5 separate regions of the Homo sapiens genome follow, and regions 1, 3, 4 and 5 are each linked to region 2. The links come from fine-mapping of genetic effects on gene expression. A gene starts in region 2. Each other region holds a variant in brackets. All regions are shown on one strand. Distances are from middle to middle. Region 1 overlaps PLA2G4C (phospholipase A2 group IVC). Region 2 holds the start of PLA2G4C (phospholipase A2 group IVC). Region 3 overlaps ZSWIM9 (zinc finger SWIM-type containing 9). Region 4 overlaps LIG1 (DNA ligase 1). Region 5 overlaps LIG1 (DNA ligase 1).

The links. PIP is the estimated chance that this variant, and not a neighbour inherited with it, causes the effect. A credible set is the group of variants that fine-mapping cannot tell apart.
Region 1: its variant is the best candidate, but not a certain one, in a credible set for the expression of PLA2G4C in caudate (GTEx, PIP 0.61).
Region 3: its variant is the best candidate, but not a certain one, in a credible set for the expression of PLA2G4C in monocytes (Quach 2016, PIP 0.90).
Region 4: its variant is the best candidate, but not a certain one, in a credible set for the expression of PLA2G4C in tibial nerve (GTEx, PIP 0.52).
Region 5: its variant is the best candidate, but not a certain one, in a credible set for the expression of PLA2G4C in whole blood (INTERVAL, PIP 0.52).

The regions. Positions count from the first base shown.
Region 1 is chr19:48,079,837-48,085,927 of GRCh38, forward strand. It overlaps PLA2G4C (phospholipase A2 group IVC), which reads right to left. Exons shown (of 17, transcript NM_003706.3): 10 at 5,223-5,276. Among named protein-coding and RNA genes, the nearest start is that of PLA2G4C-AS1, 22 kb to the left of the region's middle. The variant C/T (reference allele first, on the strand shown) is at 3,199.
Region 2 is chr19:48,107,923-48,114,013 of GRCh38, forward strand. PLA2G4C (phospholipase A2 group IVC) reads right to left here and starts at 2,895. Exons shown (of 17, transcript NM_003706.3): 1 at 2,565-2,895. RefSeq lists an enhancer at 2,711-2,870.
Region 3 is chr19:48,180,460-48,186,550 of GRCh38, forward strand. ZSWIM9 (zinc finger SWIM-type containing 9) reads left to right here. Exons shown (of 4, transcript NM_199341.4): 3 at 1,996-2,308. Among named protein-coding and RNA genes, the nearest start is that of ZSWIM9, 13 kb to the left of the region's middle. The variant C/A (reference allele first, on the strand shown) is at 2,680.
Region 4 is chr19:48,151,166-48,155,438 of GRCh38, forward strand. LIG1 (DNA ligase 1) reads right to left here. Exons shown (of 28, transcript NM_000234.3): 6 at 2,707-2,802; 7 at 67-174. It overlaps LIG1-AS1 (LIG1 antisense RNA 1), which reads left to right. Exons shown (of 3, transcript XR_007067281.1): 3 at 4,177-4,260. Among named protein-coding and RNA genes, the nearest start is that of LIG1-AS1, 7.4 kb to the left of the region's middle. The variant C/A (reference allele first, on the strand shown) is at 2,457.
Region 5 is chr19:48,159,550-48,165,640 of GRCh38, forward strand. LIG1 (DNA ligase 1) reads right to left here. Exons shown (of 28, transcript NM_000234.3): 2 at 6,001-6,074; 3 at 2,713-2,802; 4 at 1,823-1,958. The coding sequence starts at 6,017. Among named protein-coding and RNA genes, the nearest start is that of LIG1, 7.7 kb to the right of the region's middle. The variant A/T (reference allele first, on the strand shown) is at 3,080.

The DNA.
Region 1 (6,091 bases), 28 kb before region 2:
TGTAATCCCAGCTACTCAGGAGGCTGAGGCAGGAGAATTGCTTGAGTCTGGGAGGCGGAGATTGCAGTGAGCCGAGATCGTGCTGCTGCACTGAAGCCTGGGTGATGGAGTGAGACTCCGTCTCAAAAATAAACAAATATATGGGACCTGAGTAAATTAAAAAGCTTCTGTACAGCAAAGGAAGTAATTATCAGAGTAAACACACAACCCACTGAATGCGAGCAAATATTTGCAAACTAGGCATCCACAAAAGACGATTATACAGAACCTATAAGGAACTCAAAGAAATCAGCAAGAAAACGAATAATCCCACCGAAAAGCATCCCAATGATATGAATAGACATTTCTCAAAAGAAGATATTCCAGTGGCCAAGAAACATATGAAAAAAATGGTCAGCATCACTAATCATTAAAGAAACGCAAATGAAAGCCACAATGAGATACCATCTTACTCCCACAAGAATGGCCATTGATAAAAATTCAAAAAAAACCATAGACGTTGGTGTGGATGCGGTGCAAATGGAACACTCACACACTGCTGGTGGGAATGTAAATTAGTACAACCTCTATGGAAAACAGTATGGAGAGTCCTCAGAGAACTAAAAGTAGATCTACCGTTCGATCCAGCAATCCCACTACTGGGTATCTACCCAAAGGAAAGGCAGCCATTATATGAAAAAGACACTTGTGGGCTGGGTGCAGTGGCTCACGCCTGTAATCCCAACACTTTGGGAGGCTGAGGAGGGGAGATCACTCGAGGTCAGGCGTTCAAGACCAGCCTGGCCAACATGGTGAAACCCCATCTCTACTAAAAATACAAAAATTAGCTGGATGCGGTGGTGCACATCTGTAGTCCCAGCTACTTGGGAGGCTGAGGCAGGAGAATCACTTGAACCCACGAGTTGGAGGTTGCAGTGAGATTGCACCACTGCATTCCAGCCTGGGCAACAGAGCGAGACTCTGCCTCAAAAAAAAAAAAAAAAGACACATGCACATGTATGTTTATAGCAGCACAATTCACAATTGAAAGATATGGAACCAGCCGAGCATGGTGGCTCATGCCTGTAATCCCAGCACTTTGGGAGGCTGAGGCGGGTGGATCATGAGGTCAGGAGATCGAGACTATCCTGGCTAACACCGGTCTCTACTAAAAATACAAAAAAAAAAAAAAAAAAAAAATTAGCTGGGCGCAGTGGTGGGTGCCTGTAGTCCCAGCTACTCAGGAGGCTGGGCCAGGAGAATGGCGTGAACCTGGGAGGCGGAGCTTGCGGTGAGCCGAGATCGCGCCACTGCACTCCAGCTTGGGTGACAGAGTGAGACTGTCTCAAAAAAAAAAAAAGATATGAACCCACCTAAGTGCCCATTGACAAATGAGTGGATACAGAATATGTGGTATATAAACACCATGGAATATGACTCAGCCATAAAAAAGAATAAAATAATGTCTTTTGCAGAAACTTGGATGGAGGCCATCATTCTAAGTAAAGTAACTCAGGAATGTAAAACCAAAAACCATATGTTCTCACTTATAAGTGGGAGCTAAGCTATGGGTACGCAAAGGCATACAGAGTGGCATAACGGACTTCAGAGATTCAGAAAGAGGAGGGTAGGGAGGTGGGGATAAAAAACTACACATTGGGGCCAGGAGTGGTGGGTCATGCCTGTAATCCCGGCACTTTGGGAGGCCGAGGCAGGTGGATCACCTGAGGTCAGGAGTTCGAGACCAGTCTGAGCAACATGGAGAAACCCTGTCTGTACTAAAAAAATACAAAATTAGCCAGGCATGGTGGTGCATGCCTGTAATCCCAGCTACTCGGGAGGTTGAGGCAGGAGAATGGCTTGAACCCAGGAGGTGGAGGTTGCGGTGAGCAGAGATCGCTCCATTGCACTCCAGCCTGGGCAACAAGAGTGAAATTCCGTCTCAAAAAACAAGAACAAAAACAAAAAAACACTACACATTGGGGCCAGGTGTGGTGGCTCATGCCTGTAATCCCAGCACTTTGGGAGGCTGAGGCGGGCAGATTGCTTGAGCTCAGAAGTTCGAGACCAGCCTGACCAACATGGCAAAACCTCATCTCTACTAAAAATATAAAAATTAGCCGGGCATGGTGGTACGTGCCTGTAATTCCACCTACTAGGGAGGCTGAGGCAGGAGAAGCACTTGAACCCAGGATACAGAGGTTGCAGTGAGACGAGATCTTGCTACTGCACTCCAGCCTGGGCAACAGAGTGAGACTGTCACAAAAAACAAAACCAAAAAACTACATATTGAATGCAACATACTCTAAAACATACACTGATGGGTGGACTACAGTCTCAGAATTTACTACTACATAATTCATCGTGTAACAGAAACCACTTGTACCCCAAAAGCTATTGAAGTAAAAATTCAAAAAAAAACAAAAAAATCTTAATATTTAAAAATATTATTACCTAATAGTAGCAGTGTTGATCCTTATAATTAAAATATTGTACATGTTATAACTTTTTACTTGAGACCAAATCAAAATTCAATTTTTCCACATGTGCTGAAAATGCGATAGAAAGCTAAGTCCTGATACACGTCGGTTAGGTCAAGCTTCTGCTTCATCTTTTTCAAATTTTTGAATTGTCAATAAATAAATTTTGTCTGCTTTTTTTTCTTTTTCTTTCTTTCTTTCTTTTTTTTTTTTTTTTTTTTGAGACACAGTCTCGATCTGTTGCCCAGCCTGGAGTATAGTGGTGCGATCTCGGCTCACTGCAACCCCTGCCTCCCGGGTTCGAGCAATTCCCCTGCTTCAGCCTCCCGAGTAGCTGGGGTTACAGGCGCCCGCCACCATGCCCAGTTAATTTTTATATTTTTAGTAGAAACGAGGTTTCACCATGTTGGCTGGGCTGGTCTCGGACTCCTGACCTCAAGTGATCCACCCACCTCAACCTCCCAAAGTGCTGGGATTACAGGCGTGAGCCACTGTGCCCGGCTTGCTTTTTCTTTCTTTCTTTTTTTTTTTTTTTTGAGACGGAGTCTCGCTCTGTCGCCCAGGCTGGAGTGCAGTGGCTCGATCTTGGCTCACCGCAAACTCTGCCTCCCAGGTTCACGCCATTCTCCTGCCTCAGCCTCCCGAGTAGCTGGGACTACAGGCGCCCGCCACTACGCCCGGCTAATTTTTTGTATTTTTTAGTAGAGACGGAGTTTCACCATGTTAGCCAGGATGGTCT[C/T]GATCTCCTGACCTGGTGATCCACCCGCCTCGGCCCCCACAAAGTGCTGGGATTACAGGCGTGAGCCACCGCGCCTGGCCCTGGCTTGCTTTTTCTAACAATACAAGACATAATAAAAATAATATTGACATTTAAGAGGACACTCCCATGTGTCAAGCTTTGCTCTAAGTACTTTACATACATGAGGTCATTTAAACCCCACATCAAATAGTACATAGTCCCAATCTTGTATATTTGATGTATATTTACATTTATTTGATATAAATATACAAGATTGGGGCTATGCACTATTGTATCCATTTTACAAAGGAGAAATTGGGTCACAGAGAATTTTGTTGTTGTTGTTGATTTTCTTTTCTTTTTTTTTTTTTTTTTGTTTGTTTCATTTCTTTTTTTTCTTTTTCTTTTTCTTTTTTCTTTTTTTTTTTTTGAGACTGTGTTTCACTCTTGTTGCCCAGGCTGGAGTGCAATGGTGTGATCTCAGCTCACTGCAACCTCCACCTCCTGGGTTCAAGCGATTCTCCTGCCTCAGCTTCCCGTGTAGCTGGGATTACAGGCATGTACCACCACGCCCGGCTAATTTTGTATTTTTAGTAGAGATGGGGTTTCTCCACGTTGGTCAGGCTGGTCTCAAACTCCTGACCTCAGGTGATCTGCCCACCTCAGCCTCCCAAAGTGCTGAGATTACAGGTGTGAGCCACTGCGCCCGGCCCCTCATTTCTTTATTTTTTAATTTTTTTCACAGAGAATTTAAGCAGCTTTCTAGGGTCACTAACGCATGAGAGGTGGAGCTGGGATGTGGATTCAGGCAGACAGGCTTTGGATCAGAACCACCATACGATTCCCCTATAGATCCCTGTGTCTGCACTCACCAACCAGTTACATAGGTGAGTCACGCATCCTTTCCATGACCCGGTGGCTCTCAGCAAAATGGAGGGGACAACAGCATCCACTTCTTCAGGTCATTCAAAGGGTTAAATGATGAACAGGTAACGAATGCCAATTTTGTGTGTGTGTGTGTGTGTGTGTGTGTGTGTGTGTGTGTGATGGAGTCTTGCTCTGTTGCCCAGACTGGACTGTAGTGGTGTGATCTTAGCTCACTGCAGCCTTTGCCTCCTGGTTTCAAGCGATTCTTGTGCCTCAACCTCCTGAGTAGCTGGGATCACAGGCGTGCACCACCATACTTGGCTAATTTTTGTATTTTTAGTAGAGACGCATTTTCACCATGTTACCCAGCTTGCACTCGAACCCCTGACCTCAAGTGATCTGTCCGCCTGGGCCTCCCAAAGTGCTGGGATTACAGGCATGAGCCACTGCGCCGGGCCAGGCTGCTTGCATCTTGTTGCCCAGGCTGGAGTGCAATGGTGTGATCTCAGCTCACTGCAACCTCCGCCTCCTGGGTTTAAGAGCTTCTCCTCTTGGCACAAGGTCTCCTTGTCTGTTCCATGAGAGGAGAGAGCTGGAGAGCCACAGAAGGCCTTTTGTAGCCAGGCCTGGAAGTAGCAGGCACCAGCTCCACACACCTGTTGGCCAGGATCAGAAACCTGAACTCCTGGCCTCAAATGATCCGCCCGCCTTAGCCTCCCAAGTGTTGCGATTACGGGTGTCAGCCACTGCATCCAGCCAGATTGCTAATGTTTACTGAGTGCCTTTATCTACCAGACACTGTCCTATGTGCTTTTGATGAATTAACTCATTTAATCCTCATAACTACTATTATTATCACCCACATGGCACAGAGGCAGAAACTGAGGCACAGAGAGGTTAGGTAACTTTTCAGAGGTCACAAAGCTCACATGTACCACAGCAACATTCCTTCCAAGGGTGTCTGTACTCTCATCCACTCTGTGGTCTTCCTGGCTGCCCATAATCAATGTTCAGTGTATGAGAATAAATGTCAGGAAATGTGGTTGTTAGAACCATTATACACAGGCCTCTTTTCTGCCACATGCAGGAAAAGTACTGTGAATCTCCTTGCATAAAATATCTCTAGGCTTTGACCTTTCTGTTCCCCAAATACTCACCAAAAATAAGGTGTCCAATGCTTTTAGCATTAGCAACAGCCCTTCTCCATAAACCTGCCAAGAAAATAGCAATAAAATTCAAACATTCTCCATCACATGACTGTCATGTTTGATATTCAAAGCACCAGCAGACTGGCATAAAGCACTGCAGGGATCTGCAGCAGGAAGAAAGATCATTCTTCCATTCCATAAATATTTATGAAGCAATCAGTGGGCACCCGGCACTCTTCTGACTGTTGGAATAGAGCAGTAAACAAGACAGATTTGTCCTCAGGAACCTTCTATGGGTGGAGCCAGCCGGGCACTGTAGACTGGCTACCCCAAGGCCATTTCAAGCTCCCTTCCATGCCAACGTTTCTCAGCCCACAGGCAGGAAGGGCAAATATTTCCCAGCCTCCCTTGCAGCTAGAGGGAGGTCAAGCTCTGGCCCATGCAGATTTATGGGGGCACTTCTGGAAAGTCCTAGCTGTCCTACTATGAAAGAGCAGGACAGCAAACATGTTGGATTAGAGGCATTGCTGGCATACCCCTCCCACTTGGAAGGACAAAACACTGTGTAGAGATTCACACTGTGAACTTTTTTTTCAAGAAGTGATTCAGGAATTAGACAGGAAATCTGAAGGAATCCACAGTCCCTTTGAAGGAAGTGACGGGCTGCAGCCTATACTGTGACTCAAGTGAAGGGCTGCGAGTCCCCAGGGTGTGAGATGGGGAAAGACTGTTTGCAGGACACACGCCCCCACCACACCAGGGAGCCTGAAAGTCCAGTCTCTGGGGTAAGGCCTTAACCCTATTCAGTGCAGGATATGACTTGGGGAGGTTCGTGGAATATAAGTAGGAGCTGTGGGAAGAACCCTGCATGCACTCCC
Region 2 (6,091 bases):
GCTCCCTGTCCAGTGGACACGTGACTCACATGACCTTATCAATCATTGGAGATGACTCACACTCCTTACTCTGCCCCTTATTATCCAATAAATAACAGCGCAGCCAGGCATTTGGGGCCACTATCGGTCTCTGCGTCTTGGTGGTAGTGGTCCCCCAGGCCCAGCTGTCTTTTCTTCTATCTCTTTGTCTTGTGTTTTTATTTCTACGATCTCTCGTCTCCGCACATGGGGAGAAAGACCCACAGACCCTGCAGGGCTGGTCCCTACAGTGGCGCAATCATAGCTCACTGCAGCCTCCAACTCTTGGGCTCAAGCAATCCTCCTGCCTTGGCCTCCTGGGTTGCTGGGACTACAGGCATGCACCACCACGTCTGGCAAAGTTTTAATTTTTTTGTAGAGATTGAGGTCTCACTATGTTGCCCAGGCTGGTCTCATTCTCCCGGGCTCATGCAATCCTCCTGCCTCAGCCTCCCAAGAAGTGGGGATTACAGGTGTTAGCTACCACACCCCACTAAAAAGCTGAGTTCTGTGTTTCACGACAGTGATATTATTTATAGAAGTAGCTGGGGAAGTTATAAATCATGCGACCCCTGGTTACGTGACTCTGGAGCACATATAGAAAAGGAAGCTAAGGGATGGCAGGTCATTCTTCAACCCACGACTGTTCTTTAGCAAAGTTCCAGCACCTTCATGATTCTAACCTTGTCTTATGAATGTGACTTCAGGCCAGGCACAGTGGCTCATGGCTGTAATCCCAGCACCTTAAGAGGCCGAGGTGGGAGGATCACTTGAGGTCAGGAGTTGGAGACCAGCCTGGCCAACATGGTGAAACCTTATCTCTACTAAAAGTACAAAAGTCACCTGGGCATGATGGCGGGCGCCTGTAATCCCAGCTACTCAGGAGGCTGAGGGAGGAGAATCACTTGAACTCAGGAGGTGGAGGTGCCAGTGAGCAGAGATCATGCCATTGCACTCCAGTCTGGGCAACAAGAGTGAAACTCTGTCTCAAAACTAAATAAATAAATAAAAAGTAAATGAATGTGGCTTCAATCTCTCAACAAGGACTGGGGGTCAGTTTTCTTTGTCTCAAAGTTTAACTATGAATTAAATTCCTCTCATGGTAATTTTGGCCTCTGCACTAGAATAAGAAAAAAAAATCTAGCCTGTGAGGTTAGAAACAAGATGGTCAGTCATGTTAGCTTTCTCTCATTACTTACATTTCTGCGAAGGCAGTTTCAAGACCCCCCTTATGAAATTAATCAGCTTCCCCCCACCACCTCCAAATTCATATGTTGGACTTGTAACCCCCAGAACCTCAGAATGTGACTGTATTTGGACATAGGATTCTTTTTCGTTGTTTGCTTTTTGAGACAGGGTCTTGCTTTGTCACCCAGGCTGGAGTGCAGTGGTGTGATCGTGGCTCACTGCAGCCTCAGCCTCCTGGGCTCAAGCGAGCCTCTCACCTCAGCCTCCCGAGTAGCTGGAAGTGCAGGTACATGCTACCATCTCCAGCTAAATTTTTTATGTTTTGTAGAGATCAGGTCTTGTTATGTCACCCAGGCTGGTCTTGAACTCCTAGGCTCAAGAGAGCTTTCCACCTTGGCTTCCCAAAACGCTGGGATTATAGGCATGAGTCATCGCACTCGGCCAGACATAGGCTCTTAAAGGGGTGACTAAGTTAAAGTGGGGTCCTGAGGGTGGCCTGGAATTTGGTTTGATTGGTTTATTTTATTTTATTTTTTTTTGAGATGGAGTCTCGCTTTGTGCCCTAGGCTGGAGTGCAGTGGCGCAGTCTCGGCTCACTGCAAGCTCCGCCTTCCGGGCTCACGCCATTCTCCTGCCTCAGCCTCCGGAGTAGCTGGGACTACAGGCGCCCGCCACCACGCCCAGCTAATTTTTTGTATTTTTAGTTGAGACGGGGTTTCACTGTGTTAGCCAGGATGATCTCGATCTCCTGACCTCAGGATCCGCCCGCCTCGTCTTCCCAAAGGGCTGGGATTACAGGCGTGAGCCACCGCGCCCAGCCTGATTGGTTTTATAAGGAGAGATTAGGGCCTCTGCAAGAGGCTTCAGGAGAAACCAACCCTGCCAACACCTTGATCTTGGACTTCTAGCTTCCAGAAGTGTTAGAAAATAAATTCCTAGCCGGGCGCGGTGGCTCACGCCTGTAATCCCAGCACTTTGGAAGGCCGAGTGGGGTGGATCACGAGTTCAGGAGTTTGAGACCAGCCTGGCCAACATGGTGAAACCCCATCTCTACTAAAAATACAAAAATTAGCCGGGTGTGGTGGTGTGCGCCTGTAATCCCAGCTACTCGGGAGGTTGAGGCAGGAGAATCGCTTGAACCCCGGAGGCGGAGCTTGCCGTGAGCCGAGATCGCGTCACTGCACTCCAGCCTAGGCGACAGAGCGAGATGCTGTCTCAAAAAAAAATAAATAAATAAATAAAATAAAATAAAATAAAAAAGAAAAAGAAATCCTGTTATTTAATTGCACCCAATCCCTGGTACTTGGTTATGGCCGCCCCAGCGGGATGAAACAGCCCTCCCTGCCCCCACGGCTTGCCTGAGCCTGGGTCTGGGGCGTGTGCGCATGCGCGGTGGAGCTTGTGCTCCGGAATCCGGTGCGGAGGCTTGGGCTCCCTGCGCTTAGCGGTGTAGTCGCTGGACAGCTCCTTCAGCCGGAATCTCCGCGGGTGAAGACTGCGGGGATCCTCGGTGCCAAAGCTTCTGTGGTCCTCCTGCTTTCCTTTTCCCCCTGTGGGAGGAGGTCGCGGGCTGGAGGTGTTTCCTCCTGGTCCTGAGCAGGGCCAACCTGGAGGTAAAATGGCCCCTGCGCCTTTAAACAGCCCTCCTCGGCTTGTAGGCCCTGCTTGGTTGCTCCAGCTTTTTCAGCTGTTCCAGAGCTCACCCGGAGCTATTTTCATCCGTGGGATCACGTGGAGGGCTGGGACTTTCCAGGCTTCCTTAGTGATGTCACCCTTCTGTCATTAGGCACCCGAGACCAGTATTCAAAAAAAGAATGTTGTCGTTATATAACTATATTGGAGATAAGTATTCCTCAAAACAGATTAGCTAATCCTCCTATGCATCTGGCTGTCTAATAACCATCATATATAATATCATACTCAAATACCCAGAAAAAGAAATATTGAGGCCAGGCGTGGTGGCTTACGCCTGTAATCCTAGCACTTTGGGAGGCTGAGGCAGGCGGATCATGTGAAGTCAGGAGTTCGAGACCAGCCTGGCCAACATGGTGAAACACCTTCTCTACTAAAAATACAAAAATTAGCTCGGTATGGTGGCGTGTGCCTGTAATCCCAGCTACTACTCGGGAGGCTGAGGCAGGTGCTTCATCCTGGGAGGTGGAGGTTGCAGTGAGCCAGATCCTTAGGGCCAACTCTGGTTCATTTAATGTCCATTTTTAGAAAACCTGTGAGCTCCATTCACAGTGAAGGTTTGAAGCCCAGAAGTGGCCTCCCAACAGGGTACCACATTTCCCAGCACCTTTGCAGCTAGGTGTGGTCATGTGAGCGAGTTATGTGGTCATGTGACCGAGTTCCAGTCAGTGCAATCGGGCATCTGTGGGGAGCACCGCTTCCAAGAGTGGCTCCTAGAAACCTCCCATACTACCCTCCTGCCTACTCTTCCTGAAGCCCAGCACTAAGCGTCATCCCAACTCGATGGGTTTTGAATTTTTTTTTTTTTTTTTTGAGATGGAGTCTTACTCTTTGTCGCCCAGGCTGGTGTGCAGTGGTGCAATCTCGGCTCACTGCAACCTCCGTCTCCTGGGTTCAAGCGATTCTCCTACCTCAGCCTCCCGAGTAGCTGGGAACATAGGCATCTGCCACCACGCCCGGCTAATTATTTTTGTATTTTTAGTAGAGACAGGGTTTCACCATGTTGGCCAGGCTGGCTCGAACTGCTGAACTCAAGTGATCCACCTGCCTCGGCTTCCCAAAGTGCTGGGATTACAGTTGCGAGCCACCGCACCCAGCTTGAATTCTTATTTTTTAAAAATAGATATGAGGCCATAATCCTAGCACTTTGGGAGGCCAAGGCAGGAGTATCACCAATTTTAGAACAGGATTTCACCAGGGGGAAGATGGTCTCCCCTGCTCCCCCTAACGCCAGGCTCACCTCTTCAGTGCCCGCAACTCCAACCATCGCAGGATCTTTTCACTCCTAGACCTGACCATGCCACTGCCCCGCCTGCGGGATAAGGTTCTACACCTCGCAGGAGCTCATGAGGCTCTCCACAGTATAGTTAGTAGTTATAGATGCAGGGTCAAGGAGCTGACAGCATGGACCAAACCCTGGCCCACCACTTCCTAGATAGTGGACCTAGGGAAGGTAACTTACATCCCTGTGCCCCTCAGTGTCCTCACCTGTTAAATGGGGAGAATAAAAGTACCTACCTGGTGGAGCCATCATGAGGGTCACTGAGGAGTGAGGATGACCCTGACTAGCTTCAGCAGAGGGACATGGCGGCCGTGTGTGGCAGATGTGTTCCTGGGGCCCTGCACTGGTGCAGGGAGGAAGAGCCAAGCCCAAAGGAACCATGGTCTCCACACAAAGCCAGTAATGTGGGGATCCCCTGACATACAACATTTACTTTTTTTTTTTGCCTTAAACATTTTATTTGAAATTGAAACACAAATGCACACTAATTTGCCAGTTCTTTAAGGCAGAGCTGTATCAGGAACTCTTAGCTATGAGAAACAAGTCTTTTTTTTTTTTTTTTTTTTTTTTGAGACGGAGTTTTGCTCTTGTTGCCCAGGCTGGAGTGCAATGGCTCGATCTCGGCTCACTGCAACCTCCTCCTCCCGGGTTCAAGCGATTCTCCTGCCTCAACCTCCTGAGTAGCTGGGAGTAACAGGCATGTGCCACTACGCCCGGCTAATTTTGTATTTTTAGTGGAGACGGGGTTTCTCCATGTTGGTCAGGCTGGTCTTGAACTCCCGACCTCAGGTGATCTGCCCGCCTCGGCCTCCCGAAGTGCTGGGATGACAGGCATGAGCCACTGTGCCCGGCTGAAAGCCATGTTTTAGAGTGGCATAATCGCCCTGGGGCTTATTCTTCCCCTACTCCCATGAACAAAAGCCCACAGTTAGGCAGCTGCTGCCCTAGGTTCGCCGGTTTAGGGTCGTCAGGAGAGTTTGTTACTCTTTTTCCTCATCATTACAAGGTGGTGACTTGGCTCCAGCCATCATCTCTAGTCAAGGCAGGAGGAGGGGAGGAGCTGCCACAACCAGGGCTGTCCTTTTTGGTCAGGAAAGATGTTTCTCCAGAAGTCCCCAGCAGCCCCTGTGCTTATGTCCCCTGGGTCTGCCCACACAGGGCTACAGGGCCACTGCTAGCCCCAAGGAGACTCGGAAGGCAATGTTGTCTTCTTGGGCTACAACAAATAGAAACAGAATGCCCAAGAGATTGTGTGCACAAGAGACCATGATGGAGACACAGGAAGAGAGACAGGGAGGCTGAGTCACAGTGACAGACAGCAAAGTAAGCCTGGCACAGACTTGCACGGCAGAGAGCAAAGCCTCGCAGATAGAGAAGGAAGGGGAGAGAGGGCGGGTGGGAGACAAGGGCAGAGGAACCTGATGAGAGAGAAGGGAAGGAGGGAGGGCAGATGTGAGAGGCAGAAACAGAGTGTGAGGGGCAGGGGACAGCTGGGAGCCCTGTGTCCCCCCTGCGGGAGTATCAGGACACCCTGACACTCTCATGCCCGGAAGCTCCTGTTCCACGCTGGGCCCCGGGGTTAGAGGCCTCCTGCTCTGGAAGACCCGAGCCTGGGCCCCGCTCCGCGTGCAGCCGTTTTCCCCAAGCCAGCCCCGTGGTGCCCAGGGCTGGGTGGGTGTTCCAGGCATCCTGCTTGCCTTGTCTGACCATTTCCCGATGGTTTTCCTCTAACATATCATCCCATGTGGGGTGGCTGCAATAATAACAGCCCCCATAGATATCCAGGTCTTAATCGCTGAAACCTTTGATGTGACCTATTTTTTTTTTTTTTTTGAGATGGAGTCTCGCTCTGTCGCCCAGGCTGGAATGCAGTGGCACGATCTCGGGTCACTGCAACCTGTCTCCCAGATT
Region 3 (6,091 bases), 73 kb after region 2:
CTCCATCTTTAAAGCTAGAAGGTAGCATCTTTCAATCTCTCTCTGACTTTGATCCTCTTACTTCCCTCTTTCCCTTATAAGAACCTTTGTGATGACATTTGGGCCTACCTGGGTAATCCAGACTCTCCCCATCTCAAGACCCTTAATTTCATCACACCCGCAAAGGTCCTCTTGCCATGGAAGGCAGCATATGCACAGTTTCAGTGACTATGATGTGAATATTTTGGGGAACCATGATTCTTGCTACCGCAATGCTCGGAAACAAAGAGTTTTCTTTTTCTTTTTTTCTTTTTTCTTTTTTTTTTTTTTTGCTTTGAGACAGGGTCTCGCTCTGTCACCCCAGGCTGGAGTGCAGTAGTGCGATCTCGGCTCACTGCAATCTCTGCCTCCCGGGTTAAAGCCATTCTCCTTCCTCAGCCTCCCAAGTAGCTGGAATTACAGGTGTAATCCCATTAGCCTATTATTAGCCAGCACGCCTGGCTAATATATATATATATATATTTTTTTAGTAGAGACAGGGTTTCACCATGTTGGCCAGGCTGGTCTCAAACTCCTGATCTCAGGTGATCCGTCCCCCCTCAGCCTCCCAAAGTGCTGGGATTACAGGCGTGAGCCACCATGCCTGGCCAAAAACAAAGTTTTTTCGAAGTAGACTTTTAAAAAATGTAACACACATCCAGAAAAGTACACACATCATATGTGTGAAACTGAATGAATTTTCCCAAAAAAAAAATCAGAGGTAACCAGCACCCAGAACAAGAAACAGAATATGTCCAGTCCCAAGAAACCTCCTGGTGCCCCCTCACAGGGTTAACCACTTAAGGGTAACCACTATCTAGCCTCCTAACGATAGAGGTTAACTTTGCCTGCTGTTGAACTTTATATAAATGGGAATTATATCAGTTTCTCTTTCATGTCTGGCTTCTTTCACTTGGTAGGTTTGTGAGATTCATCCGTGTTGTTGGAGGTTGTAATGGTGTGTTCATTCTTGGTGCTGATTAGTGTTTTATTTTAGGAATATACCACAACTTATTTTCTCACTCTATTGTTGGATATTTAGGTTTCAAGTATTTGGCGAATACACATAGTGCTGCTATGAACATTCTCGTACACAGCTTTAGATGCCCATTTGTCTTGAGTGGCACCACTGGGTCACAGGAGAGACATAAAATTTGCTTTAGTAGATACTGCCATGAAGTTTTCCAAAGTGCTTGTGCCATTTCACGTTCCCATCAGTGATGGGTGAGAGTTCCAGTTGCTCCACGTCCTCATCAACACTTGATGTTATCAGTCTCTTTTGTTTGACCATTCTGCTGATGTGTAGTGGCATTTCCTTAGGGTTTTAATTTGTTATGTCTTTGATGACTAATGAGTTTGAGTCCTTTTTCACGTATACAATGCTTTTAACACACAGAAACATACCTCCCATTGTTTATGGGTGCATAAAAATATACATGGAATGCTAATAGATAATTTTGATAGTGGCTGCCTCTGGGGACAGAGGGAAGGAAGATAATCTGTTAGGGCAGCGTTCACAGAAGGCCTCAACTTTTGATGTTATTGCTAAACCAGAAGCAGATACAGGACTATCTGAAATTTTTTATTTCTAAAAAAAGTTAAGGTAAATACAATAAAACATTCACTCACTTTTGACAGAACTAAGGGTGGTAGGTATAGAATTTTAGTGAACACTTACTGCTTGCCATATTCCAGACACTGTGTAGGTGCTTTACCTATATTAACTCTTTTCATGCTCATGACGATCCTATGAGGAAGGTATGATGAGTAGGACCTTCCTTGTAACCTATGAGGAAACTGAGGCATAGAGACTTGAAGTGACTTGCCCCAGGTCACACAGCTGGCATATTCTTAGGGCCCTCTACTCTTCTCTATGCCTGAAACAATTCTTAGTTTAAAAAAAAAAAAAAGGTGAGTGGAAAGGAAGAAGAGGGCAGCAGAGTGATGTGACCAGGGCGGTGGTGGTTCCTCCCACAGGCCTCCCCAGCCCGGCTGCCCCGCCTTCATCATCGTCAAGCTGAGCCCGCTGCGGGACCGCCTCGTGGTGACGGAGTGCCAGCTGACCCACTCACACCCGGCCTGCCCGCTGGAGTTCGCCTACTACTTCCGCCCGGGCCACCTGCTGGCCAACGCCTGCCTGCCGGTGCGCACCACCAACAAGATCTCCAAGCAGTTCGTGGCCCCAGCCGACGTGCGCCGCCTGCTGTCCTACTGCAAGGGCCGCGACCACGGCGTCCTGGACGCCCTGCACGTGCTCGAGGGCCTCTTCCGCACCGACCCCGAGGCCAAGGTGGGGTCTCGAGAGAGGCAGGCCGGGGGAGGGGGCGGGGGAAAGCCGCGCTGAAGACTCGTGGGTCATTCATGCCTTCATCCGCCCTCTCATCCCTTCACTCCTTTCCTCCATTCATCCGTTCATTCATTCAATAAGTACTTACCGAGGCATTGGGGATGCAGCAGCAAACCAGACCCACGTGGTCTCTGTCCGCAGAGAGCTTACCTTCTAGGGTAGTGCTGCCCAGTAGAACTTTCTTCCAGGATGGAAACGTTCTGTGATTCTGCACCCCCAGCCACAAGTGGCTACTGAGCACTTGAAATGTGTCCAGTACACTGAGGAACTGAATTAATTAATTAATTAATTAATTTTTTTGAGACGGAGTCTCA[C/A]TCTGTCACCCAGGCTGGAGTGCTCTATCACCCAGGCTGGAGTGCAGTGGTGCGATCTGGGTTCACTGCAACCTCCGCCTCCCGGGTTCAAGCGATTCTCCTGTCTCAGCCTTCCGAGTACCTGGGACTACAGGGCGTGCCACCACGCCGGCTAATTTTTTTGTATTTTTAGTAGAGACGGGGTTTCACCATGTTAGCCAGGATGGTCTCGATCTCCTGACCTTGTGATCCGCCCGCCTCGGCCTCCCAAAGTGCTAGGATTACAGGCGAGAGCCACCACGCCCGGCCTGAATTTATTCTAATTAATTGAAATTTAAATAGCCACCTATGGCTATTGGCTGCCTTGCAGAGGTAACTGCCAGAACGCCCCTGCAGTTCTGGCGGGAAAAACCAACAACTGACAAACATGTCCAAATATGATGTAACATCACTAGGGGCTGGCTGGGTGCTAGCAAGAAGGGGAGCCACAGTGATGACAAATGCTATGTAAGTTTTTTTTTTTTAATCTTTTTTTTTTTTGAGACAGGATCTCACTGTCACCCAGGCTGAGTGCAGTGGTGCAGTCATGGCTCACTGCACCCTCGATGTCCCAGGCTCAAGCAATCCTCCCACCTCATTCTCCCGAGCAGCTGGGACAACAGGCGTGCACCACCACACCCAGCTAATTTTTTAGTTTTTGTAGAGATGTTTGGCGGGGGGGGGTCTCCCTATGTTGCCCAGGCTAGTCTTGAACTCCCAGACTGAAGCAGTCCTGCTTCGGCCTCCCAAAGTGCTGGGATTACAGGCATGAGCCACCACGCCAGGCCTACTTAAATTTTTTTTTTTTTAATTGAACTGCACAAACAGAAAATGCACAAATGATAAATACTTAGTTTGATGAATGTTCTCAAGGGGAGAACACACCTGAACCCACCATGCAGATGGAGAATTAGGAGAAGGAAGAGTGCTATGTCCTGTAATGTGATGGAGCGATAAGTTATCATCAAGGAGAAAAAGGCCGGGGCCTGGAGCGGGACAGTTCTAAGGGTGCTGTTTGAATTGGTCAGGGAAGGTCTCTTTAGCAAATGATGGTGAAGCAGAGGAGATGGAACAGAGGCAAGGGACCCTCATTCTGTCATCAGAGGGAAGAGAATTCTAGGCAGAAGGAACAGCCAGTGCAAAGGCCCAGAGGCACGAGCAAGCTTGTGTTGGAGGAACAGTGAGGATGGCTGCTGCTCCATAAGGAATCTCTGCGGCTTTAATCCAACTTCAAGTTTGGGGTGAACTTGAAGTTTAAAGAGGAAAGAAAGATGAGAAAGTAGGGGAAGAACTGGTTTCTCCTCCTGGCTGTGCCTTTGTCTCCCTTGTGTGTGGAAGAGGTCCCAAGGCAGGGTAAAGTCGAGATTCAGCTCTGGCACACTCTTCCTGTCTTCATCTCATGCCCAGTAAGAAGCCCTGATTCAAGCCACCAGCCCAAGCCCAGGCCTCTGTCCCGACATAATAATAATTTTAGCTAATGTTTATCAAGCACTTACTATATGCCAGGCACTACCCTAAGTGCTTTACATACTATAACTCATTTTCATCTCACCTGAGCCCTATGAGGAAATAGTCCACCATTCTCATCCCCATTTTACAGACAAGGAAACTGAAGCACAGAGAAGTCAAGTAACTGGCTCAAAGTCACACAGCTATTTAGTGACAGAGCTGGGCTTCGGACCCACACAGCCTGGATCCAGACCCATGACCTTCACCATGGGGACAAACACACATGCACTTCCTACTCCACTGGTCTTTGCTGATCTAGTAACTCTCCTCCACTACCCACCATGACATAAATAAGCCTCAGCTGTTCTTCCCTGAACCCACCCTCTGCAGGATTGTCCCTGTGCAGAACAGCTCATTCATAGATCAGAGCCTTCCCTGGAAGGGGAGTTGTCTTTTCATTTTGAAGGCTGTCTTGGAATCTCGGCTAAACCACGGTTGGCTCCTGCGTCTGTGTTTTGACCTGCTTTCATACTTTTTTTTTTTTTTTTTTTGAGACGGAGTTTCGCTCTTGTCACCCAGGCTGGAGTGCAATGGCGGAATCTTGGCTCACCGCAACCTCCGCCTCCCGGGTTCAAACGATTCTCCTGCCTCAGCCTCCTGAGTAGCTGGGATTACAGGCATGCGCCACCATGCTAATTTTTGTGTTTTTAGAAGAGACGGGGTTTCTCCATGTTGGTCAGGCTGGTCTTGAACTCCTGACCTCAGGTGATCCCCCCGCCTTGGCCTCCCAAAGTGCTGGGATTACAGGCATGAGCCACCGTGCCCAGCCCCTTAATGCTCTTGAAAGAAAGGAGGAAGAAGTTCTAGGACAGGAGAGACAGATTAGTGAAGCAACATTTAAATATTTACTTTTTGAATATGTCATACATTCACATGGTTCTAAAAAAGGTATGTGGTGAAAAGTCTTATCACATCCTGTCCCCCAGGTCCCCTCCCCTGCAGAGTTATTAGCAGCTTATAAATCATATCTCGCTTTCTATCCTATGGACCAGCACTGCCCGGTGGAACTTTCTACAATGATAGAAATGTTCCTTATCCAGGCTAGGCATGGTTACTCACACCTGTAATCCCAGCACTTTGGGACTCTGAGGCAGATGGATCACCTGATGGCAGGAGTTCGAGACCAGCATGGCCAACATGGCAAAACCTGATCTCTACTAAAAATTCAAAATTAGCCAGGCATGGTGGCAGGTGCCTGTAATCTCAGCTACTCGGGAGGCTGAGGCACAAGAATCGCTTGAACCCAGGAGGCAGAGGTTGCAGTGAGCTGAGATTATGCCACTGTACTCTGGCCTAGGTAACAGAGTGACACTCTTGTCTAAAAAAATAAAAAGAAAGAAAATGGTTCTTATCTGTACTGTCCAATCCAGAGGCCACTGGCCACACATGGCTACAGAATGCTTAATGAGGCCAGTATGACTGAGGAACTGAATTTGTCATTTAATTTATCGAAATGTAAACAACCTAATGTAGCTAGTGGCTTCTGGATTGGACAGCGCAGCTCTGCACATATACAGGTCAATTTGCATGTCTGTATGTTTAACTTTAATTTTTAACTTTATTTCCTCTTTCTGCCCCGCCACCCCCCACCCCCAGCAAGCAGGGCAGCCTAGTGTACACGCTGTTTTTGTTTGTTTGTTTGTTTGTTCTTTGAGACAGGGTTTCACTCCTGTCACCCAGGCTGGAGTGCAGTGGCACGCTGTTGGCTCACTATAACCTCCACCTCCTGGGCTCAAGTGATTCTCCTGCCTCAGCCTCCTGAGTAACTGGGACTATAGGCATGCACCACCATGCCTGGCTAATTTTTGTATTTTTAGTAGAGACGAGGTTTCACCATGTTGGCCAAGCTGGTCTCAAACTCCTGACCTCAAGTGATCCACTCACC
Region 4 (4,273 bases), 42 kb after region 2:
CTCCAAAGACTTCTGACCCCAAAATCAGGAGGTGGGGCAGGGCGGAGGAGAGGACCAGAAACTCACTGGAGGTCTTTAGGGGCTTGGGAGGCGTGGTGGGCTGGTCCCCGTCTTCTCCTTCCTTCTCTGTGGCCACTTCAGCCTCTGTGAGGCTTTCTTTCGGGGTCTCCTCTTCTGACGATAGACAGAACGGTCAGATGGCAAAAAAATCCCATTGAACCTACAAGGGCATTTTGACTCTGGAGACAGTCTGCCCTCATCTGTCATCTGTTCTTTTTTTTGAGACAGAGTTTCGTTCTTACCGCCCAGGCTGGAGTGCAATGGTGTGATCTTGGCTCACTGCAACCTCTGCCTCCTGGGTTCATGCGATTCTCCTGCCTCAGCCTCCCGAGTAGCTGGGATGACAGGCGCCCACCACCACATCCAGCTATTTTTTTGTATTTTTAGTAGAGATGGGATTTCACCATGTTGGCCAGGCTGGTCTTGAACTACTGACCTCAGGTGAGCCACCCGCCTTGGCCTCCCAAAGTGCAGGTCTTACAGTTCTATCTTGTGCCAATCCAATGTGCCTGTAAAGCAGTGGGCCACGTAAGACCCTGCTCCTTGTCAACCCCAAGCAAGGCAGCGACCTTGAGGGGGTCCAGCCCGTTTGCCTATGTAGCCGAGACATAAATGGTGTGTCTTTCCTTACCAATGATTCCTTTAGTGTTATTCACCCCAAAATAGAATCTGAAAGGGTTAAAAATGCAAATGACAGCCTGTTATAGACAAAAATAAAAATCTTCAAAGTTAAAAAAAAAATCTTACCTCTAGGGTCACAATACAAACTACAAAAACCAACTTGGGAAAAATCTGCCTTAGTAGAAAGAGGCCACCCCCGCCACCCCTCACTGGACACTGACAGTGGCTAAAAGTGTAGTTTACAATAAAATTTGTACTAAAAATTGTCAATAAGAAATCAAATCTTTTTTTTTTGAGACACAGTCTCCCTCTGTCGCCCAGGCTAGAGTGCAGTGGCACAATCTCGGCTCACTGCAACCTCCACCTCCCAGTTTCAAGGGATTCTCATGCCTCAGCCTCCTGAGTAGCTGGGACTACAGGCGCATGCCACCATACCCAGCTAATTTTTATAATTTTGGTAGGGATGGGGTTTCACCATGTTGGCCAGGCTGGTCTCCAACTCCCGACCTCAAGTGATCCACCCGCTTCGGCCTCCCAAACTGCTGGGAGTACAGGCGTGAGCCACTGCACCTGGCCAAGAAATCAGATCTTAACCAAATTTAAATCTGCCCTGGAAAATGGACCTTTTATTTGTTTGCAGAAACAAAAAACCAAATGACGTTAAAGGCTGCAATTGGTGTAATCTCATGCAGGCCCCAGATGATCAATCGATCAGATCTTTATGGCTGTTTTCGGTGGGTTCACCAACATGCAGGGAACTCACTGGGCGCTGCAAGATATTTTAGATTTTTCAAAGGAAACCCAGCGACACCTGCTGGCCAGTGTGTGAACTACTAGTTCGAGGTATTTCAGTTTTCAGTATTAAATCACATTCCTTGCAATGACATTGCATCTCTGCAAAGCTGGGTTTTCATAGGTTGCTGCTATAAAAATCAAGTACTGTACAAAAATCAACATAGAACAGGAAATGACGTTGGCAGTTTTCAATTGAATTCCACTGTTTAAGATGTTACAGAGTATCCAAGGCATTTCCCACAAGTAATTATGGTTATTTAAGAACAAAATACAGGCTGGGCGCAGTGGCTCACGCCTGTAATCCCAGGGCTTTGTGAGGCCGAGGTGGGCAGATCATGTGAGCTCAGGAGTTCGAGACCAGCTTGGTCAACATAGTGAAACCCTGTCTCTACTAAAAATACAAAAATTAGCTGGGCGTGGTGGTGTGTCTGTAATCCCAGCTACTCGGGAAGCTGAGGTGGGAGAATCGCTTGAGCCTGGGAGGTGGAGACTGCAGTGAGCCCAAACTGTGCCACTGCACTGTAGCCTGAGCGACACAGTGAGACTGTCTCAAAAAAAAAAAAAAAAAAAAAGCACAAATATTACTTTTTTTCCAATGTATGTATAGTATCTAATAGTTGTTTGGACATAACTACTTAATAGAACTGATAAGGTATTGGCCTAGGAGCATCATAAAAAAATTACTAAGACATCAAGGGTGCTGTGAACTAAGAATGTTTGGGAACTGCAACTTTATGGTAAAATTTACAAGGAAAAGGAAATCATTTAGAGGAAAAATAGTTTCCATTAAATAAATATAAAAATAGCAAATAAAAATGGGAAACTGTGCCTGAATTATTACTAAATTAAGATGTCCAAACAAATATATCCCACAATGTTTTCAGAACAAAAGTTCCCATATTGGTAGGTGGAATTCCTGGATGCCTGGACACAGGCATCAAATCGGCAGGGTCCAAACATCCTGAGCTCTCAGGCCCCTG[C/A]CCTTGCAGATCCAAAACACACACACACACACACACACACACACACACACACACACACACACACACACACCTCTCCTTCTGGGGGCTCACCTTCCTCCTCCTCCTTCCTCTTGGCTTCACACACACACACACACACACACACACACACACACCTCTCCTTCTGGGGGCTCACCTTCCTCCTCCTCCTTCCTCTTGGCTTCACACACACACACACACACACACACACACTTCTCTCCTTCTGGGGGCTCACCTTCCTCCTCCTTCTTCCTCTTGGCTTCTCTGTCCTCGTCCTCACTCTGCTCTTCCAGGACTTCCTGAATGGTCCGTTTCGGGAGCTGCTTCCGAGCTGGGGAGGCAAAGGGCTTGGTGTATCTGACCTCGCTGGCTCGTGTGCTCCCATCCCGGAGAGCTCACACCCACTGATGTAGCCTCTGGAAGGCTCTGGGCCCTCTCCCCTTCTCTGCCTGCACACAGTCACTGCCCCAGTGCAGGCCGCACCCTTCAATCCCTCCTGCTTCCTGGCTGTGTGACCTTGGGCAGGTTACTTAATTTCTCTGTGCTTTGCTCTCTCACGACTGCAGAATAGAAATAATCCCCACGAGTAAACAATGATGTAATGTACTTGGCACAGTACCGATTCCAGCAGGTCCCCTGAGCTCCCCACTGCTCCCCTCAGATCTTAACTGCCTCCAAGTGTTCCAGACAGCTTCCCCGGAACCTCAGAAGTCTGGAAGTGGCAGGGAATAAACTAGCCCCAGGAGAGGCCCTCACCCCACGATCGGCAGGAGTTGGTGTATAAATACCCCAGCTGCCTCGCATCTCGGGGGTCACTCTGGAGCATTTACACCGTTCCCCAGAGAATCCCACAAAACTAAGCTCCAGCTGCCCAACACATAGCAGACCCAACAGCACATCCTGTGTTGGCTGCTCCCCTGTCCTGAATCACCCTCTGTTCCCTGCACCTCCTAAACAAACCACTTGCACTTGAATCCCTGTTTCAGAGCTTCAGAACCTGCTTCTAAAAGCCTCTAAACTCAGATACTAACCCATGATGAAGAGCTCACACAAAGGCAGTTGTACCCATCTTCACTGTTATATCTCATGTTGGCCATTGCGCCACCTGGTCCCCGGTCTCCCGGCCCCCAGTGGCTCCTTCACGTGGCCCCAGAGGGACCTTCTATCAGCATGGCTGGCACTGTCTCTCCCTGCTCAAAACCCTTCCATGACTCCACATTCTCTGCTTTATCCAGGATAAAGTCTTTTGATGTCTACCCCGATCCTACCTAATCTCTCTCCATCTGACCTTCTAACCCTTCCCACACCACATACTCCACCTTCTTTTATATCACTGCTAAACTGGGGTGTTTCCAGACACACCAAGCTGTGTCACCCCTCCAGGCCTCAGCATGTGAGGTTTGGGACATAGCTCAATGTTGCTCCCTCTGAACAAGATCCCCTGACACACCCCCAGGGCCAACCTCAGCGTCCACCTGGAGCTCCCAGCATGCCCTCAGCCACACTGTGACTTCCTTATGGCCACCTTTCATTCAGGGATGAACCTGCCTCCCCACCTCACAGCCCTTCCATGGCTCCCAGGACCCACAGCACGAAGCCCAGGCTCCTTAGCTGGGAGTGCAAGACCTTTTGAGATCCAGCCCCCACTCTCCTCTCTAGCTCACCTCTCACCACGTGCTATCCTCAAACTCTCCCTGCTTCCCAGGTCGCATCCGATTCTCCAGAAACAAGGAAGTAGATGAGAGGCCCCAAACATCCCATGCTGTTCCCATCTCGAGGCCTCTGCACGTGCCCTTCTTGTC
Region 5 (6,091 bases), 52 kb after region 2:
ATCAGCTGACCTTCCGATAGTGGGATTACCCTGGACTATCCAGGTGGGCCTGATATAGTCACAGGGGCCTTCAAAGTGGAAGAGGGTGGCAGGAGAGGAAAGTCAGGGTGAGATGTGGCCACAGAAGAAAGGCACAGAAGGAGGCAATGCCACTTGCTTATTTATTTATTTATTTATTTATTTTTTGAGACAGAGTCTTGCTCTGTCACCCAGGCTGGAGTGCAGTGGCACGATCTTGGCTCACTGCAAGCTCCGCCTCCCGGGTTCACGCCATTCTCCTGCCTCATCCTCCCGAGTAGCTGGGACTACAGGCGCCCGCCACCACGCCCAGCTAATTTTTTGTATTTTTGATAGAGACATGGTTTCACCATGTTAGCCAGGATGGTCTCAATCTCCGGACCTTGTGATCTGCCTGCCTCGGCCTCCCAAAGTGCTGGGATTACAGGCGTGAGCCACCACACCCAGCCACTTGCTTTGAAAACGGAGAAAAGGGGATCTCTAGCAGCTGGAAAAGGCAATTCCTGGATTCTCCCCCAGAGCCCCCAGAAATGAACGCAGACCTGCTGACACCTTGAGTTTAGCCCAGTGCAACCCATTTGAGACTCACGACTCCCAAACTGTAAGACAATAAACTGACACTGTTTTAAGCCACTGCGTTTGTGGTCAATTGTTATGGCAGCAAATGGGAAGCTAACATAGGTGGTGAGGAAAGTTTCGCTGAGGAAGTGATATCTGAGCAAAGCATGGAAGAAAGCAGGGGACTGAGCCAGGCGTGTATCTGGGAAAGAGAGTTTTAGGCTGGGAAAGAAGGTAGTGGCCCAGAGGTGGAAGTGCACCTGGTGGGTGTGGGAAGCCAGGATGGAGCGAGCTGAGGAGGAGCTGTGGATGCGGCTGCAGATGTGATGGGCGGGGGAAGAGAGGAGCAGCAGGAGGGGCCTGGGAGGTTTCCACAAGGCCTGGCTTTGGCCTGTGGTGGTAATACCAGGGGGTTTGGGCAGGGAGTCACAGGACCTGACCTCACCACTGACAGAATAAGCAGCACCACGCTTTGGACATCATCCACAAAGCAATGAACAAGCATTAAATGACTTAAACAGGGGAAGAGAGTGGTCCAATGTATTTGGAGAAGTTAAAAAGCCCTCTGACCACAGGAGAGGCTAGATATACTTTTGAACCCTTATTTTTTTGCTTTTTTTTTTTTGAAGCAAGGTCTTGCTCTGTCACCCCGGCTGGAGTACAGTGGTACAATCACAGTTCACTGCAGCCTTGAACACCCGGGCTCAAGCGATCCTCCTGCCTCAGCCTCTCAAGGAGATAGCACCACAGGCATGCACCACCACACCTGGCTAATTTTTAAAACATTTTTTTGTAGAGATGGGGTCTCGCTATGTTGCCCAGCCTGGTCTCGAACTCCTGGCCTCAAGTGATCCTCCCACGTTGGCCTCCCAACGTGCTGGGATTACAGACGTAAGCCATTGTGCTGGGCCTTGAGCCCTTGTTTTACCATCAGGCATTATTCTCAGATCTGTATGTAAATCGACTCATTTCATCTTCCCAGTCACCCTATGAGGAAGGTGTTACCAGGAGCTGCATGTTACAGTTGAGGCATCCAAGACCTAACGTGGTGAAGGAGCCCACCCGAGGTCCTAGGGCAGGGGCAATTAGGACCAGGTTGTGTCTGCCCCCGACACAACCAGGAAACACATCTACCTCTCCCGGGCAATTTCTCCAGAATTCTCCTGAACAGCTGCTGCACTCTGTTCCAAAGGTTAATGGGAATTAGTTTCTTCTGGTAAAAATGGGCAGGGTGATGGGGACCTACCTGGCCTTTAGCAGGGCTAAGGGCTTCATCCTCCTCTTCCCCTTCGCTGCCCAGGACCCGGGCCGCCTTCCTCCCTGGCCTCTTCACCGGAGAGTCACTCTCGGACACCACTCCATTCCACTCCTTCAGTGCCGCCCTGGAAGGTGGGGAAATGGGGGTGTAAAGGGGCGACTACAGCAGGCAGAGTGGGGGCACTGCCCGCAAACACTTTGGTTTCTTTGCTGTTTCCTTCCCTTCCTTTCAAGCATCCAATGAACATTTTCTGGTTGTCTCCTCAGCAAATCTCATCATTTCATCCATCAGTGCATTAATCCACCCGCCCACTCATCCACTCACCCACCCATCACACATCTCTGGAAGTCTCCAGAGTGCCTGCCCTGTGATGGGTGATGCTGAGGAGCAAATGGAGTCCCTGCCTAAGGTTGCCATTGGTCTCCAGCATCTATTGGGATGCCTTTTTTTTTTTTTTTTTGAGATGGAATCTTGCTCTGTCGCCCAGGCTGGAGTGCAGTGGGCCGAGATCACACCATTGCACTCCAGCCTGGGTGAGAGTGAGACTCCATTTCAAAAAAAAAAGAGTACTGTTGTCTTCTACTTAGATGAGACAGCATCAAGACGTGGCCAGTGGCCAGCGGCCAGCTTCTCTGCATTATGGAGAATGTCTGGTTCTAGAACGAGGCCAAGACCTGCAGAAACAGAGACGTACAGACAACTCCGAGGCCCTGGATCCAGCTGTGCCTGCAGCTGCTCTTGCTCTTGGACTTCTGGCCACCTGGCTGAAAAAGTTTTTTGGGCCCCAAGACATTTTGCATTAGGTTTGAACACTTGCAACCAAGACAATCCTGACTGCTAAAGGAAAAAATTCACCATATCCCAGCCCTGTGACATACTTTGGAGGGGGCTCCGTCTCTCTGCTGCTATTGGATGCCTCCTTCTCAGGCTTCTTTGCTTTACCCTCTTTCTTGGGGTGGAAAAATGACCTAGAGGAGCATAAAAGGGGGTAAAAAAAGGAGAATAACAGCACCAATACCCTGCCTATCTATGCTGTATCCTATAACTTCCTTTTTTTTTTTTTTTTTTGAGACAGAGTCTCGCTCTGTAGCCCAGGCTGGAGTGCAATGGCGCAATCTCAGCTCACTGCAAGCTCCGCCTCCTGGGTGCATGCCATTCTCCTGCCTCAGCCTCCCAAGTAGCTGGAACTACAGGCACCCGCCACCATGCCCAGCTAATTTTTTGTATTTTTAGTAGAGATGGGGT[A/T]TCACCGTGTTAGCCAGGATGGTCTCGATCTCCTGACCTTGTGATCTGCTTGGCCTCCCAATGTGCTGGGATTACAGGCATAAGCCACCGCGCCCGGCCGCATCCTATAACTTCTAACACCATTTCCATCTCAGCACATAACAGAGAATTTCAAATAAGCCCTTTAACTTAACTGATAAGGAAACTCAGACTCAGACAAAGGAGGCAACACTAATTTTTCTGCCCTAACGCACCTGCAAGATATGATACATCCCAAGTTTTATTCAACAAATATTAACTATGCACTTTTTAAATCTTTTTTTTTTAGACAGACTCTCGCTCTGTTGCCCAGGCTAGAGTGCAATGGTGTGATCTCGGCTCACTGCAACTTCTGCCTCCCAGGTTCAAGCGATTCTCCTGCCTCAGCCTCCCGAGTAGCTGGGATTACAGGTGCCCACCACAACGCCCAGCTAATTTTTTTTGTATTTTTGGTAGACACGGGTTTTCTCCATGTTGGCCAGGCCAGTCTCAAACTCCTGACCTTAGGTGATCCACCCACCCTGGCCTCCCAAAGTGTTGGGATTACAGGCATGTGCCCCCGCGCCCAGCCTAAAAAAATTTTTTTTTTTGAGATGGAGTTTTCACTCTTGTTGCCCAAGGGTGGAGTGCAATGGTGCAATCTCGGCTCACTGCAACCTCGGCCTCCCAGTTTCAAGTGTTTCTCCTGCCTCAGCCTCCTGAGTAGCTGAGATTACAGGTGGCCGCCACCACGCCCGGCTAATTTTTTTCATTTAGTAGAGAAGGGGTTTCACCATGTTGGTCAGGCTGGTCTCGAACTCCTGATCTCAGGTGATCCTCCTGCCTCCCAAAGTGCTGGGATTACAGGTGTGAGCCACTGCGCCCGGCCTACCTAAGCACTTATTATGTGCCAGGGCCTGTTCTGGGCCTGAGGGGTTTGGCAGTGACCCAGACACACGAAGTTCCTGCCTTCAAGAAGCTAACACTCTGGTGAAGGGCAGAAATATTAAGCAAACAACTAAATATAAAATGTTGGGGCCTGGCATGGTGGCTCACACCTGTAATCCCAACACTTTGGGAGGCCGAGGTGGGCGGATCACGAGGTCAGGAGATCAAGACCATCCTGGCTAACACGGTGAAACCCTGCTTCTACTAAAAATACAAAAAAAATTAGCTGGGTGTGGTGGCAGGCGCCTGTAGTCCCAGCTACTCAGGAGGCTGAGGCAGGGGAATGGCCTGAACCTGGGAGGCAGAGCTTACAGTGAGCCAAGATCGCGCCACTGCACTCCAGCCTGGGCGACAGAGCAAGACTCTGTCTCAAAAAAAAAAAAAAAAAAAATGTTGGAAGGCGTGAACATTAAAAAAAAAATCTGGTGAAATCTGAATAATAAAGTATGGAGTTCAGTTAAGAGTAATGTACTGACATTAGTATCTCAGTGGTGAGAAACGGATCATAGTAATGTATGATATTGACAATGGAAACTGGCCAAGGGTATACAGGACCTCTCTGTACTGTCTTTGCAACTTTCCTGTACCTCTAAAATTATTCCAGAATAAGAGGTTTATTTAATCTTCAAAAAGAAAAGGAAAAATCATGCAAAAGCCAGTGGACAGAAAGCAATCGAAGGCACCATCAGCCCTGGAGAGACAATCCCCAGATTCCTCATCACGGGAGAAAAACGGAACCCAGCATTTGTGTAAGCCACTACCGCCCAGGTTTCTGGGATGGATGCCCTTGTCTGGGTCTCTCTACCATCCATTTTTTCCTCCTGGTAACAGCCCCTCCGTTTTCCTCTTGGGATGCTTCTTACCCCACATTCTCTCAGTACACACGATTTGAGTGGGCTGGCCCTTTTGCCTGTGACCAGGGGTGGACACGTGATCCAGGCTGCATCCCTGTGGCTGGTTCAGGGATAGGTATGTGGCCCAGGCTGGGCCAGTGAAACTGGGCTCTAACACCCTCTTTCCAAGGGGACCGCTAAGAGGGGAGAGCCCGCCTGAGGGTGAGGACAACCTCAAGGACAGTAGAGCTGAACAATGGAGAGAGACAGATTCCCAGGGAGGAAGTTTTGGCAACTGGATCGAACCAAGCCTGAGGCTGTTTACTCCAGCAGGTTTCAATGATATAAGTCAAGTCATGCCCTTTCTTGTCTTCCTGAAGCCGGACTGCATTAACACGAGGTTTCTCAACCTAGACACTATTGACATGTTGGGCCTGATGGTTCTGTGTTGTTGGGGGGGCTGTCCTATGAATTGAAGGATGTTTAGCAGCATGCCTGGCTTTTAGCCACTAGATGCCAATGGCAAACCCTCTGTCCCTAGGTTGTAACAACCAAAAATATCTCCAGACACTGGCCGGGCGCCGTGGCTCACGCCTGAAATCCCAGCACTCTGGGAGGCCGAGGTGGGCGGATCACGAGGTCAGGAGTTTGAGACCAGCCTGACCAACGTGGTGAAACCCCGTCTCTACTAAAAATACAAAAATTAGCCAGGCGTGGTGGCACGTGCCTATAATCCCAGCTACTCAGGAGGCTGAGGCAGGAGAATCACTTGAACTCATGAGGCGGAGGTTGCAGTGAGCCGAGATTGCGCCACTGTACTCCAGCCTGGGTGACAGAGCAAGACTCCAACTCAAAAAAAAAAAATCTCCAGACGCTGCCAGATGTTCCCTGGGGAGCAAAATTGCTGCTGACTGAGAACCACTGCGTTAGGGTTTCTGCTCCTTGCAACTAAAAACTGTTGTTCAATACACTGTCTTCCATATCCCACGGCTCATTTTCCATACTACTTGACTCCTGGAAATTCCAACTCAAAATCTAACGTAAGAGTTTTTGTTTGTTTGTTTGTTTTTTTAAGTACAGATTTAGAGAAAGAAACAGAGGACTTGGAGAAGGAAAGACTCAGGGGCAAGGGAGGGTGCTCACATGATACTTCGCTGCATGTTGGCGTCAGAATTCTCCCTTCCTGTCCAGCACTTTTCTTCGTCTGTCAGCTGCTCCTGGAACAGAAATCCAA